Regions from separate parts of the Homo sapiens genome. Here region 2 is linked to region 1. Evidence: fine-mapped expression QTL. Tissue or cell type: prefrontal cortex. Region 1 holds a variant in brackets; the other region holds the start of a gene. All regions are shown on one strand. Distances are between the middles of the regions.

Evidence for each region. PIP is the estimated chance that this variant, and not a neighbour inherited with it, causes the effect.
Region 2: it holds the start of CTXND1, and the variant in region 1 is fine-mapped to the expression of CTXND1 in prefrontal cortex (BrainSeq, PIP 0.95).

The regions. Positions count from the first base shown.
Region 1 is chr15:80,214,998-80,222,241 of GRCh38, reverse strand. The region is part of intron 1 of CTXND1 (cortexin domain containing 1); the gene reads left to right. Among named protein-coding and RNA genes, the nearest start is that of CTXND1, 34 kb to the left of the region's middle. The variant T/AT (reference allele first, on the strand shown) is at 3,307.
Region 2 is chr15:80,248,305-80,255,548 of GRCh38, reverse strand. It overlaps CTXND1 (cortexin domain containing 1), which reads left to right and starts at 3,336. Exons shown (of 3, transcript NM_001352888.2): 1 at 3,336-3,542.

The DNA of each region.
Region 1 (7,244 bases):
ACTTTGTGTATGTTTTAAATTTCCATAAAATTTTAAATTCAAATTTTCCCTTACAAAAAGAATATAAACCTTAAAATTGGATGGATCAAATAGCCATGAAGAAATAGAGGATTCTAATAGCATAATGAATAATCTTGATTTAATGAATATATCTAAAATCCTATATGCCCCCAAAACAGAATATTACGTTTTTATAAATGTCCATGGAATCATTTCAAGAAACTGACTATGTATACACACATATAATGCAAAAAGCAACACCTATACAAGCTATATTCTCTGACCACGGTGCAATGAAACTAGAAATTAACAATTAAGAGAAACCCCAAATAAAATTTTCTAGCTATTTAATAATTTTTGAGAAACATATTTCCAAACAACATTTAAATCAAAATATAAACTTGAGACTACATAGAAATGAATAGCAGTTAGAGCAATGGTTTCCAAAATCTATGGCATGCAGCCAAAGTTATACTCAAAGAAATATATAAAGCCCTAAAAAATATTTATTTTTCTATTAAGCAAAAAAGATTTAAAATAAATTTACTAAACTGTCACCTTTAGAAGCTAGAAAAAGAACAAAAAAGTTACTAAAAGTAGGACAAAGGGATTAATATAGGTTAAATCAGACTTACCAAAAAAAATCATTTTTATTTTTAGAGCCAGGGTCTCTCTCTGTCGCCCAGGCTGGAGTGCAGGGGCGCTATCATACCTCACTGCAGCCTGGAACACCTCGGCTCTAGTGATCCTCCCATCTCAGCCTCCAAAAGCACTGAGATTTAAGGCACGTGCCACCATGTCGAGTCCAAACAAATCATTTTTATAATGAAAGATTAGTAATATTTCTTTACAATAAAGAACAAGACAAGGATGCCCTTTATCATCCCTACTATTCACTATTTCACTTGTGGTCTGAGCCAATTCAACAGGAAATGAAAAAAGTGGCAATGTGCAAAGAAAGGGACAAAACTGTTCTTGGCGGGCATTATGATTTTCTAAATCTAAATCTTCTAACAAATAAATTAATAATAGAGGCTGGGCGTGGTGGCTCACGCCTGTAATCCCAGCACTTTGGGAGGCCGAGGCGGGCGGATCACGAGGTCAGCAAATCGAAACCATCCTGGCTAACATGGTGAAACCCCGTCTCTACTAAAAATACAAAAAAATTAGTCGAGCGTGGTGGCGGGTGCCTGTAGTCCCAGCTACTCGGGAGGCTGAGGCAGGAGAATGGCGTGAACCCGGGAGGCGGAGCTTGCAGTGAGCAGAGATCGCGCCACTGCACTCCAGCCTGGGCGACAGAGCGAGACTCTGTCTCAAAAAAAAAAAAAATAATAATAATAATAATAAATTAATTAATAATAGAGCTCAGTAAATTTTCTGGATTTAAAATTCATACATAAAAACTTATATTGTTCTTCCATACCAACAATAACTAATTATAAGGTGTAAAAAAAAATCAATACTATAAACCACAAAATACCTAGAAATAAACAAACAGAAAATGTGTTTTCCCATGGGGAAAATTATAACACATGATTAACGGACATGAATGAAAGTCTGAATACCTTTATCACAAATGGGAAGACTCAATATCATAAAGATGATAATTCATTATTAATTAAATCATAAATGCAATGTAATCGCAATCAACACCCTAACAGAGTTTTTCATGAACTCAACAAGGTGATCCTAATATATAAAAGTGTAAGGAGTCAAGGCACTCTGGAATAAAAACTACAAGGTGGAGAAGTTGGAGTAGCATATAACAAGATGTATTATAAAGCCACTTAATGCAATTTAACACAGTATGGTATTGGCAGAGATAGACAATAAACAAATTCAAAAGGATAGAGAGCCCAGAAATGAACTCATGTAGATGGAAACTAGAAGTGGCATTACAAATCCCTGGGAGAAGACAGATTCGTCAATAAATAGGGATGAGACAATTGTTTATCCCTATAGGGAGACATAAATATAAACCCCCCACATGAAAAAAACTATCTCAGATGGATTATAAACCTAAATGTGAAAAACAAAGTTGTAGAATTCTAATATAGATAGATAGATAAATAGATAGATAGATAGATAGATAGATGATAGATAGATAGATAGATAGATAGATAGATAGATAGATAGATAGATGAGAGTATATTTGACATCAGGACAGGAAAGGATTTAAGAAGTCACAAAAAGCAAAAATTATAAAAGAAAAGATTAATGTGGCTTACTACATTAAAATTCGAAACATCTGAACAAATAGGATTCTAAGAACAAATTTGAAAAACAAGCCACAGATTGCGGGGCGGGAGGGATTGCAGAATGGCAAAGCACAAGACCAGCGAAGAAATGATATTTAGAATAAAGATAAAGCCTAAAAGACAAACGAGAAAGAGAAAATTAACATAGTAATTTATAAAGAGGAAAACTAAATGCCCAATAAAATTATAAAAAGATGCACCACATCATTAGAAAGCAGAGGAATGCAAATTAAATCCATAATGACATACCATTCACACACCCCATGATGGCAGAAATTCACATCTGATAATACCAGCTCATGCCAAGGGTATGAAGTGGCAGGAGCTCCCAGGTACTGCTGGTGACTGTGAGATTAGGAATAACCACTTGGGAGGAAAAATTGGCAATGTCTAATAAAGTTAGAGATATGCCTATTCTACAACTCAGGAATCATACCAATTAACATAGCCTAGAAAAATCTTCACCTAAGTGTACCTGTATAGGAATGTTCACTGAAGAATTGTTTTTATAATTTAAAATTTTGAAATAACATAAAAGCCCATTAGTTGGAGAAGAAATGAGCAGTGAACAAACCTTGTTCCAACCACAGAATACTATGCAGTAGTGGAAAAGAAAGAAACAAAGTTACATGTATTGGCATGAGGAAAAGTCTCAAAGTCATCGAGTTGAATGAAAAAGCAAGTAGCAAGATGATACATACTCAATAATATTTAAAGTTTTAAAAACCACAGAAAATAGGCTGGGCACAGTGGCTTATGCCTGTAATCCCAAGTACTTTGGGAGGCCGAGGTAGGAGGATTGCTTGAGCCCAGGAGTTTGAGACCAGCCTGGGCAACGTAGTGAGACCCTCACTCTACCAAAAAAAATACAAAAAAAAAAAAAAATTAGCTGGGAGTGGTAGTGCGCACCTGTAGTCCCAGCTACTACGGACACTGAGTGGGGTGGGTCCCTTGAGCCTGGGAGGCAGAGGCTGAAGTGAGCTATGATGACACCACTGCACCCCAGCCTGGGCGACAGCACAAGACCCTGTCTCAAAAAAAAAAAAAA[T/AT]CACAGAAAATAACACTCAGTATGGTGTATGAATATATTCTTCTTATATAATAAAAATATAAAAATATGCATAGGAATGATCCACAACTTCAGGAGGGTACTCACCTCTGGTGAAGGAAAGTGGAGAGTGGGATCTAGTTCAAATACATACTGGGCTTCGCTTACATCTGTAATATCTTTCCTTTTTAAAAAGGAAACAAGCAGGGTGAAATACTAATATTGGTTAAAGTTGGATAGTAGATATACAGACACTCTCTCAGATTTTGTACATGTTTAACTATTTCAAATAAAATATCAACGGAAAATATATATATATAATATTGAGAAGAAAGGTAAAATAAATAATAAGAAAACAATTCATTGGAAAGCAAGGAAAGCATACAATTGATCTGTAATATCAATACTTTTAAAACATCAACAAAATGCAGAAAGTTCTGGAAAGCCTAACCAAGAGAAAACACAAATAAATAATATATGCAATAAGAAATAAGCAAATAGGCCAGGAGCGGTGGCTCACACCTGTAATCCCAGCACTTTAGGAGGCCAGGTGGGAAGACTGCTTGAGGTCAGAAGTTTGAGACCAGCCTAGGCAACATAGCGAGACTCCACTTCTACAAAACACTGTTTAAAAACATTGCCAGGTGTGGTGATACACACCTGTAGTCCTAGCTACTTGGGAGGCTGAAGTGATAGGGTCACTTGAGCCCAGGAGTTCCAGGCTGCAGTGAGCTATGATTGTGCCACTGCACTCCAGCCTGGAGGACAGAACAAGACCCTATCTCTAAAAATACATATACTAATAAGCAGATAATTACAGCCAAGAAGGATACCAAACAGTAATGAGAATACTACATACAATTTTCTATCACTGAAGTTGAATACATAATATGGACAATTTCCCAAGAAGTTATACATTTCCCAGATTCCTATAAGAAAAGGTAGAAAATCTAAATACATCGGCATCCATAGAAGAAATTGAAAAATATTTACCATCATTTATTTCCAGAAAAGATCCAAGTCACACAGGGTGTTTTACAATTCAAAAAACTTCTAAGGAACAGATAATTCCCCTTACTTAAACTATTAGTGGGCTGGCCATGGTGGCCTACACCTGTAATCCCAACACTTTGGGAGGCTGAGGTAGGCAGATTGCTCGAGCTCAGGAGTTCGAGACCAGCCTGGGCAACATGGTGAAACCTTGACTCTATAAAAAATACAAGAATTAGCCCGGTATGGTGGTGTGCGCCTGTAGTCCCAGCTACTTGGGAGGCTGAGGTGGGAGGATGGCTTGAACACATTAGGTGGAACTTGCAGTGAGCTGAGATTTTGCCACTGCACTCCAGTCCAGGTGACAAAGCCAGACACTGTCTCTAAATAAATAAATAAATAAATAAATAAATAAATAAATAAATAAGCAAGCTATTGGAGAGCACAGACACATATATAAATCTTCCCAATTTGTGCTAAGAAATTAGCACAACCTTGACACAAAATTAACAAAATAGTACAAAAAAATAGATTCCATTTTACTTAGTAATTGTTGTAAGAATCCTAAATAAAATATTAACATTTGAATCTGACAGTGTATTAGAAAATAGTATACAAAGTAGGATCTATTTCAGGATGTAAAATTGGTTCTATATTAAGATATCTATTTGTAGACAAAGAAGCAAACTCATGTGGGAGTTTTGTCAGTTTCCTAGACATTTTTTTTAACTCCCCAAGGCTTGATATGTTGCTATTCAACCCACAGCAGAAGTGAGGTTCAGCTTGCAATTGGCATAGAAAAACCCCAAGATGAATGTTTTTTCCCTTGTGTCCTGGCACTAGAGCCTACCTTCTGCTGTTGGAACCAATTCAAGGAAAGCAGAGATTTAGTTGCCACTATCATGGATAGTGTCAAGTCGCTGCACACACCAGTGACTAGAACTCAAGAGTTCTGGTCCATATAAGAAGAATCTTTGATCAAATCATTTGCCCTATCTGAGCCTTAGTCCATCAAACTCTAAAATAATGGAAGGGGCCAGGCACGGTGGCTCACACCCGTAATTCTAGAAATTTCAGAGGCCAAGGCAGGTGGATCATTTGAGGTCAGGAGTTCGAGACCAGCCTGACCAATATGATGAAACCCCATCTCTACTAAAAATACAAAAATTAGCTGGGCATGGTGGCGTGCCCCTGTAGTCCCAGCTACTCAGGAGGCTGAGGCAGGAGAATCCCTTGAACCCAGGAGGCAGAGTTTGCCATGAGCCAAGATCGCACCACTGCACTCCAGCCTGGGAGAGCAACAGAGCAAGACTTCGTCTCAAAAATAAATAAATAAATAAATAAAATAATGGAAGGGACTGGATGATCTCCAGCGTCATCACTTCTGTTTCTATATTAAATGATGATCCATAAACAAGGCTCAAATTACTTTTGCTATTGCAGCAAAGTAAATGACAGTTTGTTGGTCCCCCTGCTGCTATGTAACAGTTGTCAAATTTGTAGGAAGGAAATGCGAACATCTCAATTCATGGCTGTAAACAAATGAAATGTGTTCTTTGGAAAAGAAACCTCTCTTCCCTAGTTTGCAAAACTTTGAGCGTATGTCAGTTTACCCTTCAAACACAGAAAATCAATTTATGTAGCTGCGCAGAGGGGATTTGCATTAATTTAGGGGAAATACTATCAATAGGAAGTGTTCCCTTTTGCCATATGTCCAGCAGGAGTAGAGCCAGAAAACATATGGTTGATGCAGCTTGGTGCCGCCCCAGCCCTGGAGAACGGGGACATGATCTTCAGAGTTTTCCAATTGAAAGATGAGATAAAGACAAACATCTTTAAATGCCATTTTGTGAATTGTTGAATATTCCGTGTCAACACAGTTAACATAGAATGTTCAACAAGGTGGAAATCTAACATAGCTAACATATCTTTCTGGGAGAAAAACTACTAATGAGCAGACCTTGGAAGATGCTGGGGAGAGGCCGCACATTTGTATGAGGCCCCCAGGACCCTTGAAAGTGGGAAGTGATTGAGACTCCACCCACTTCTTCCCAAGATTGAAGTTGCAGAAATCGGCTTCAGTAGCCCAGTCTCCCCTAAGCAACGTCCAGAGGGAGGAAAGAGCAACGAAGCCCCTGGAATGAAATCATCTTGGAGATAAAAAGCATTAGGCTTGGGGCGGGCCACTGCTGAGTTGGGCTCTTAAGAGAGGAATGGTTCTGAATCCCTAATGCTGTGGATCCTAGGACAGTTTCCAATCCAGCCATCCTGGAGGCCAGATAATGCCCCAGGAATGTGCCCTATATGAGACAACAAATCTAAAAAGCTGTGACATTGGAACTCTTGACAAAGAGCTGAGGAAGACCAGGAAGCCCCCTTCCCACACCTTGAAGGACCACCCATGCAGAGCCACTGTGGCAGGGACTGGAATAGACTTCCTAATCACCTTCTCTTGGTGATGTGACATCCTTTGTCCTCAAGGAGAGGAGACATACCCTCTGGAAGGCATGAATAAACCGGCTCTTTGGTCATAAATAAGCACCTTGGGGACTTCTTTCATCATAAACACATTCAAAATAGTCAATATTGGAGTTTGAGCTGTTCAATGGAAGTACTAACAGGAAATGTGTTTGTACCCCAAAGGGGCAAGGAGGAACTCCAATGGTGGCCAACACGATTCCCCCAGCTCTCAGAAGAAGAAATGGTACCCCCAATATGGAGGAGTTTCAAGCGTAGGTCATTATGTGCTGGACAACATTGGGTGGCTTCATGGACTTGGCCTTGGTCTGGCTGCTGGACTGGAGCCCAACTTGGGCCAAGTAAACACTCTTGACAGACACCCCATGGAGATTGTTTAATTTGGGTTTTCTATTTCATTTTGAGCCAATTTTAACTATTTACATTTTTCTGGAAAACATCCATATCTTTGAAGTTTTCCAATGTAATGGCAG
Region 2 (7,244 bases), 33 kb before region 1:
GTCTCTGGAGCGACAACACCTTGCTTTAAATCCTAGTCCTCAATTTTCCAGCTATAAGACCTTGAGAAAGTTGCTTGCCTCTCTGTGTGTTTTGTCTTCTGCAGAATGGAGATGCTAATAGTACTTTCTTACAGTGTTTCTGTTTTGTTTTGTTCTGATGATTAAACAAGTTATTACACAGGCAGTGTTTAGAATAATGCCTGCATCGGCCCAGCACTGTGGCTCATGCCAGTAATCCCAGCCCTTTGGGAGGCCAAGCCAGGAGGATCACTTGAGCTTAAGAGTTTGAGACCAGCCCAGGCAACATGGCAAACCATGTCTCTACCAAAAACAAACAAACAAAACAAAACAAAACAAAAATTAGCCAGATGTGCTGGCATGCACCTGTAGTCCCAGCTACTTGGGAAGTTGAGGTGGAAGGATCGCTTGAGTCCAAGAGATCCAAGCCGCAGTAAACTGAGATCACACCACTGTACTCCAGCCTGGATGACAGAGAGAGACCCTGTCTCAAAAACAAAGAATAAAAAAGAATAATGCCTGCATCACACATCACAGTAAGTCTCATTGCATAGTATTATGATTTAATTATATTTCAATAACTAATCCCCTATTGACAGATATTTGGGTTGTTTCCAATATTCTACTATTATAAATTATTTCTGCAAAGCAACAAACATCTGCTATATATATTTTGTCCACTTGTCAGATGATGTCTTTAGATAAGTTCTTGAAAATGAATTTGCTTGTACATAAAGTATTCAATTTGATATTTGTCCTCAAACTGCTTTCTAGAAATATTGTACCAAATTACATTCTCATAAACAGTGAGAGAGAATGCCCATTTTTCCAGACCCTTCAGCAGCACTGAATTTGTTCAATATTTTAAAATTTGCCAGCTAGTAGGTAAAAAGTACAACTTCCTAAATTTTTTATTTGCATTTATTTCACTGCTAGAGAGGACAGTTATTTTCTCTTGTTTGGGACATTTATATTTCTTTTTTTGTGAACTGGCCGCTCATCTCTTTTATTCTTTGTTCTATTGTGGTGATCATCTTTTTAAAAAAAATGATTATAAGCGTTCTTTGTAAGATATCTACATTAAAATGTTGCTGTTATGTTAGGGCTTTCAGATTAAAATGCAGGACATCAAGTTAAATTTGACTTTCAGACAAATGATGAATGGGACATAATCATACTAAAAAATTATTCATAGCCTATCTGAAATTCCAATTCAACCAGGTTTATATCTCTGTTAAACTTAGTAACCCCATCTCATATGGATAGCAAATATTTTTCCAGTTTGTTGTTTATTTTTGAATTCCGTTTACGGTGTCTTTTTCCATGAAGACATTTATTTGCATATTTTATAATCATATATATCAGTCTTTTCCTTTATGCTTTTATGATATATTTAGAAAGGCTTTCAGAATTCTAGGTTTATGATGACTTTTATGTATATATTCATCTAATTATTTTTTGACTTCAGTTTTTTATGTTCAATTTATGACGGATCTGGAATTTGTTTTGGTCTGGGGAACTAGGTAGAAAATGAGATCCCCACACTTTCACTATCTAGTTATTCCAATATCATTTATTTAAACATCTATTTATCTGGGCCAGGCGTGGTGACTCACGCCTGTAATCCCAGCACTTTGGGAGGCAGAGGTGGGTAGATCACCTGAAGTCAGGAGTTCGAGACCAGCCTGGCCAACATGGTGAAACCCTGTACCTAACAAAAATTTCCCAGGTGTGGTGGCGCATGCCTGTAATCCCAACTACTTGGGAGGCTGAGGAAGGAGAATTGCTTGAACACAGGAGGCAGAGGGTTGCAGAGAGCCGAGATCGTGCCATTGCACTCCAGCCTGGGCAACAAGAGCAAAACTCCGTCTCAAACATAAAATAAAATAAAATAAAAACTATCTATCTGATTAACATGAAGTACCACCTTAAACACCACAGTTTCTCATGTACTTCTAATTCTGGGCTCTTCATCCCATTCCATTGAACAGTCATGTCCGGACCAGTAATGTGCTGGTTTTTGCCTTGTGACAGAGGCGGTGTCGTGTGATGGGGTTGAAGCACATAGATGCATAGTTTTTGCAGGCAGAACGCCTGCATCAAACCCCTGATCCCCTACTCCTACTTGTGTGACCTTACACAAAAGTGTAAGTGTGATACTTACACTTTTGGGCTTCCATTTCCTATCTGAAAATGGCAGCAGTATCAGTACCTGCATCATAGCTTGTTGTGATGAATAAAATGCATTAATCCACGTAGAGCACTTCCTTAAATAGTAAGCACTCAAACAATGTATTTTATTTATTCATTTATTCATTTATGCATGCAAGCATTTCTTCATTTTAATATCCAGCAGGGCTAGCTTCCCTTATGCTCTTCCTTATCAACATTTTGTTGCCTGGTCTCTTTATTCTTCCACATGACACTGAGAATCATGTCAAGTTAAAAAGAAAATTCTACTTGGAATTTGATAGAGATGGCATTGAATTGACAGATAAAGAGGACATGATGGGATTACAGTGTTTACTTCTTCTTGCCCAAGAATAAGGCGTGCGTCATAATAGATTCAAGTCTTCTCTAGTCCCCTAGTAGAGAAGGTTGTTTTTTTTTTTTTTTCTTTCACATTTCATGATAAGTTTATTTTTCCTAGCTACTGTGGCTTGGCTATTAGTGAGAATGGGATTTTTTATTTGCCTTTCAAAATGGTTAGTAAGTGCACAAGAACACCGTTAATTTGGTATGTTTATTTTGTAGCCTGCCAATTCCTTGGAAAGGCTATTATTTCAACAATCTTCAGTTTGCACTTTCCAACTACACAATCACATCCGCTGCAAACAGTAATCATTTTTCTCCCGCTTCACATATATATAATATATATACATATATACACACATATAGAATATATATTTTTTTAACAAAGGCACAACTTCAGTATTTTTACACCTTATTTCCTTCTCTTGTCTGATTGCATTGACCAGACGTCCCAAACCGGCCCCCTGCTCTTGCCCCTAACTTTAATGGAAATGTTTGGCTTGCTATGAAGCATACTGCAGGAGAAGGCTTTGAGAGGGTTTTGCTGTCGTTGTTGTTTGGGGGGATTTTTTTTTTTAACTGTAAAGAGAATATCTGAAGAAAATGCATTTGAAGAGCATATTGGAATAGCCCAGATTGGTTTGTGCGCCTGCAAGGAGCTCTTGGGCCCCCTCCCCTCGCTGCCAACGCTCTGCCCCGGGGGCTGAAGTTTCTCTCTGCGTTTCCGCTTGAACAGCGTCCAGCTGCCTCGCCTTTAAAATGCCAGGACGGCCGCGGCTCCGCTCAGAGCCCCCTCTCGGCTGCTGGCCCGGGCTCGCCCGCGCCGCTGGGGGCTCTGACTCCTGCCGAGCCGGGCCTGGGCAGCGCCCCCCGCGCCCCGCGAGCCCGCGCCCCCGTCACCGGGAAACGCCGTAGCCGGCGATCCGCGGTCGCCCTGGGCTCGGCGCCGGCCCAGCCAGGACCCCGGGAGCGCACGGGACGGGCCTCGCCAGGTAAGGACCGCGGGAGCATCCCGGGACCCGCTGCCGCGGCGCCTGCGGGGCTGGAGCACAGCATTGTCGGTGCCGCCGGGGCGTCGCGCGGGTCACCGGCCGCAGGCGGAGGATCTGCTCGCTGAAGTCGGGCCGAGCCCTGCCGCGGCGGCGAGGAGACCCGCGTGGACACTGGGACCGATCCCCTCCTCGGCGGCACTGCGCCCGGGGCGCGCCTCGGTCGGCGGGGAGGGCCGGACCCGCGCGGCAGGGGACAGCAGCCTCGGTGGGAGCCGCACGGGAGCCGCGTCGCAGCGGCCCGAGTTCCACTGCGGGGCTCGGGGCTCAGAAACCGGGAGAGTGTGGTGCTGTGCTCAGGCACCCTCGCTGTTCTGAGCCTCACCTCCCCATTCGGGGATCCTCGGCCTCTCTGCCATTGAGGGGTTTGGGGAGTGTGAGTTGAAACTGAATCAAAGTTAGAAAGTCCTTCTCGTCACGTTCAGTGCCTAAAATTCCCTCTCCTGTGGCTGACAGTCACATAGAACAGATTTTTTCTCAATGTAACTGATGAAGGTCAGCACGGATGTAACTTCTGGGGAAAGTTCTGCTGGTGGCAGCCTTTCTAAAGAAATGTCAAGTCTCCGTTGGATTTTGTTCTCATCTGTGGCAAAAACCCTAATCCACGCTTTCATATATTTTTCCGTATCAGTGGAGGCGTAGACCTATCCTGGGTTCTAATGTTTTGGGGAATGTATTATGGAGCCGAATTTGGTAAGAGTCTCCGTGCCCGCAGCAAAAGTTCTGGAAAAGAACCTGTTAGAAAATCCAAGCTGATGCACCGCCTCACCAGGCGTGCAATAGGGCCACAGTGGCCTGTCAGGATGTGGCTCGGGACCCAGGAAAAAAGCTCCATCGAAGCCTGTGCTGCCTTCGTGGGGAGAAGTTCCATTCTAACCCACTCGTGCATCCGCCGGCAGGTTCTTCTCAGTTCTCCTCTGATTCTAATCAGAGGATTCGAGTTTCTGGATTAACACTGTGATACAATCTTACCCTTTTCCATAAAATATGTATCCAGTGAACTAGGGGATCTAGTTCCGAGGGTCTGGAGTTGAAGTCTTCTATACTTCCCTCACCCTCATTAAGCCACATCTTGAGAGGAATTGTAATAATCTGATCTGTGGTCTTTGCGAACCTGCAAAGTGTGTGTAAGACCTCATAAAGCCAAACATTCAAGGCTTTAAAGGTGATTTATAGATTAGATTTTGATTAAGGCTACCTTTTCAGGGATGGCTCAGCATAAGATATGTACCAGCTTTGAGGAGGCATTACGGAGGAAAAGCAAAACCTTACGTCCTTGGGAAAACTGTTCTGAAACTAATGACTTTACATTTATCCAAAAGAGAAATTGTGGGGAAGCTGTTTATTTATTCTGTGTAATCATTGCATTCATATGTTGTTGTTTCAAAGGATTAATTTCCCAATCAGTTTTCCCAGTAACACTGTTTATGATTTTTGAACGGCATGCAAGTAATGAATGCATAGAGCATAATGTATCTCTAACCCAAATACATGTGGAAAATTATAGCAAATTTCTCGCCATTACATGTTTAAGATGCAGATTTAAAATAAAGTTATGGCAGAATAGGAGTTGTTTAAAAAATAATATGAACTTTAATTGGCCTGAAAAAAAAAAACTAGCTCAACTAGAAGTTCAATTGCTGCTTGCTTATAAATTGTGATTTACAGAATTGCGTGTGTCTTTCCAGTTCCTTTCCTTACAGGGTTAATGAAAGAGGCAGCCATTCTGAATATACTGCCTTGCTAGTTAATCTTTCTCCAACAAATATTTACACTACCTGGCCACACTATTACAGCACAGACTCAAAATCTGCAACCCTAAAATAGTTTGTGTGTAGTATTGCCCAAATTCAATACTATTTTCATGACGTAAATAGAAAATGAAATGGTATCAAGGAAAATGTCCTTTAAGTATCCTGTCTTGCCATAATAGAAAGAACAGTGTTTATAAAACTGACATGGTTCCTAGACTGAGGTTAATGCTCCTAATAAGTTCTGATGTAGAAGAAGACCATAATGACTGTGAATTTTGACATTGAAGGCTCTGGAACCGGTCCGTGTCTGCAAATTTTTTAGATAGCTTAAGTTTGCTATTAAAAGTGACAACATTTAGAACTGTTTGGGATGGAAATATTTCTAAAGCACATTACATGCTTTCTACAATCAGAGAGTCAGCGAATGGGAATTTGTGTGTTTCCTGACAACTCAAGATCAGCACTGTGAATATCAGTTGCCTTGTGGACACCGGGGAGAAGAACACTGGCATTTGTGGGGGACAAATCAGTGTTTAGTCCTGGCTCTGCCACTAAGTCAGATGACCTTAAGCAAGCCACCTTTTTTATCTTCAGTTCTTATTTGTAAAACCCCAGAATCATCAATTACTAAAAGTCAGTTCCATTTATTAAGCCCTTAGTATATACTAAGCATTTTATATATTCCATCATTTAATTATCAGGTTTATTATCCCCATTTTCCTGACAAGGAAATTAATGATCAGAGAAGCAACTTGAATTACTCAAGGTTAAATGAGGTAGGAAAACTGGGATTCTGAGTAGGGTTCTTCCTCTAAAAGATCTGACTCCTAGTGCCCTTGTCCCGTTAGAATCCCACAGACCCCAAAATGGCATTCTATCCCTGTCCTTAGGATGGCGTGATGGAAAAGAGCTGAGTTCCCCTGAGACTGGAGCAGGGTCAGAAAGACAGGGAATTGAGGCTGGGCACAGTGGCTCAGCACTTTCAGAGGCCAAAGCAAGAGAATCGCTTGAAGCCAGGAGTTTGAGACCAGCCTAGGCAACAGAGTGAGAACTTATCTCCACAAAAAAATTTTAAAAATTAGCCAGGCATGGTGGTATGCCTATAGTCCCAGCTACTTGGGAAGCTGAGGCAGGAGGATGACTTGAGCCCAGGAGTTCAAGGCTGCAGTGAACTGTGATTGCACCACTATACTCCAGCCTGGGCAACATAGTGAGACCCTGTCTCTACCAAATTAAAAAAAAAAAATCAAAAAAAGAAAGAAAGAGAACTGTGCTGCCACTCCTGCAACCCAGCCTGGTGGCAGACATGGGTAATTAAAATACAATGTTCTTTCCATAGACATGAATCTCTATGCCCAGGTGGTTACCACGAGTTGACCAGAGGCAGCAGGCATACTGACACCTGTCTGTTATTTAGAGGCTGATATTATTAATAGCTGACAAGTGGCCTGACACTGCATGGCCTTTATGATCACATCCAGTTCCCTCCGGCTACCCTGGCTTCTTGACTCAGACGGAGCTCCCTGTGTTCTAGAAAACTGCAAATTAATGGCATACATTTGTCGCACCTCCCTCTCTTGCCTAGAGCAGACATTGCTAATCAATTATGATATTCTTTCCCATGGAGCCAGAACGAGGCCTCAGAATCCTTTTCTACAACTGCCTGGAGTTGGCTTAGGAAATGGTATCTAGTTAGGTACTGTAGACAATGGGGAGAGATTGAGGAGTTTTAAGCCAGGAGAGTAATGTGATGGCAAAACTCCTGAAATTGTTTCCCTAATGTACCTTTCTTTCTCTCCTTACCCTTTCCGCTGCGTCTCCTATAAGCCGTAGGATCATCTGTAGAAATGACCCCTGTGCAGGCAAACCTGCCCCAAGATTCCCCACATCA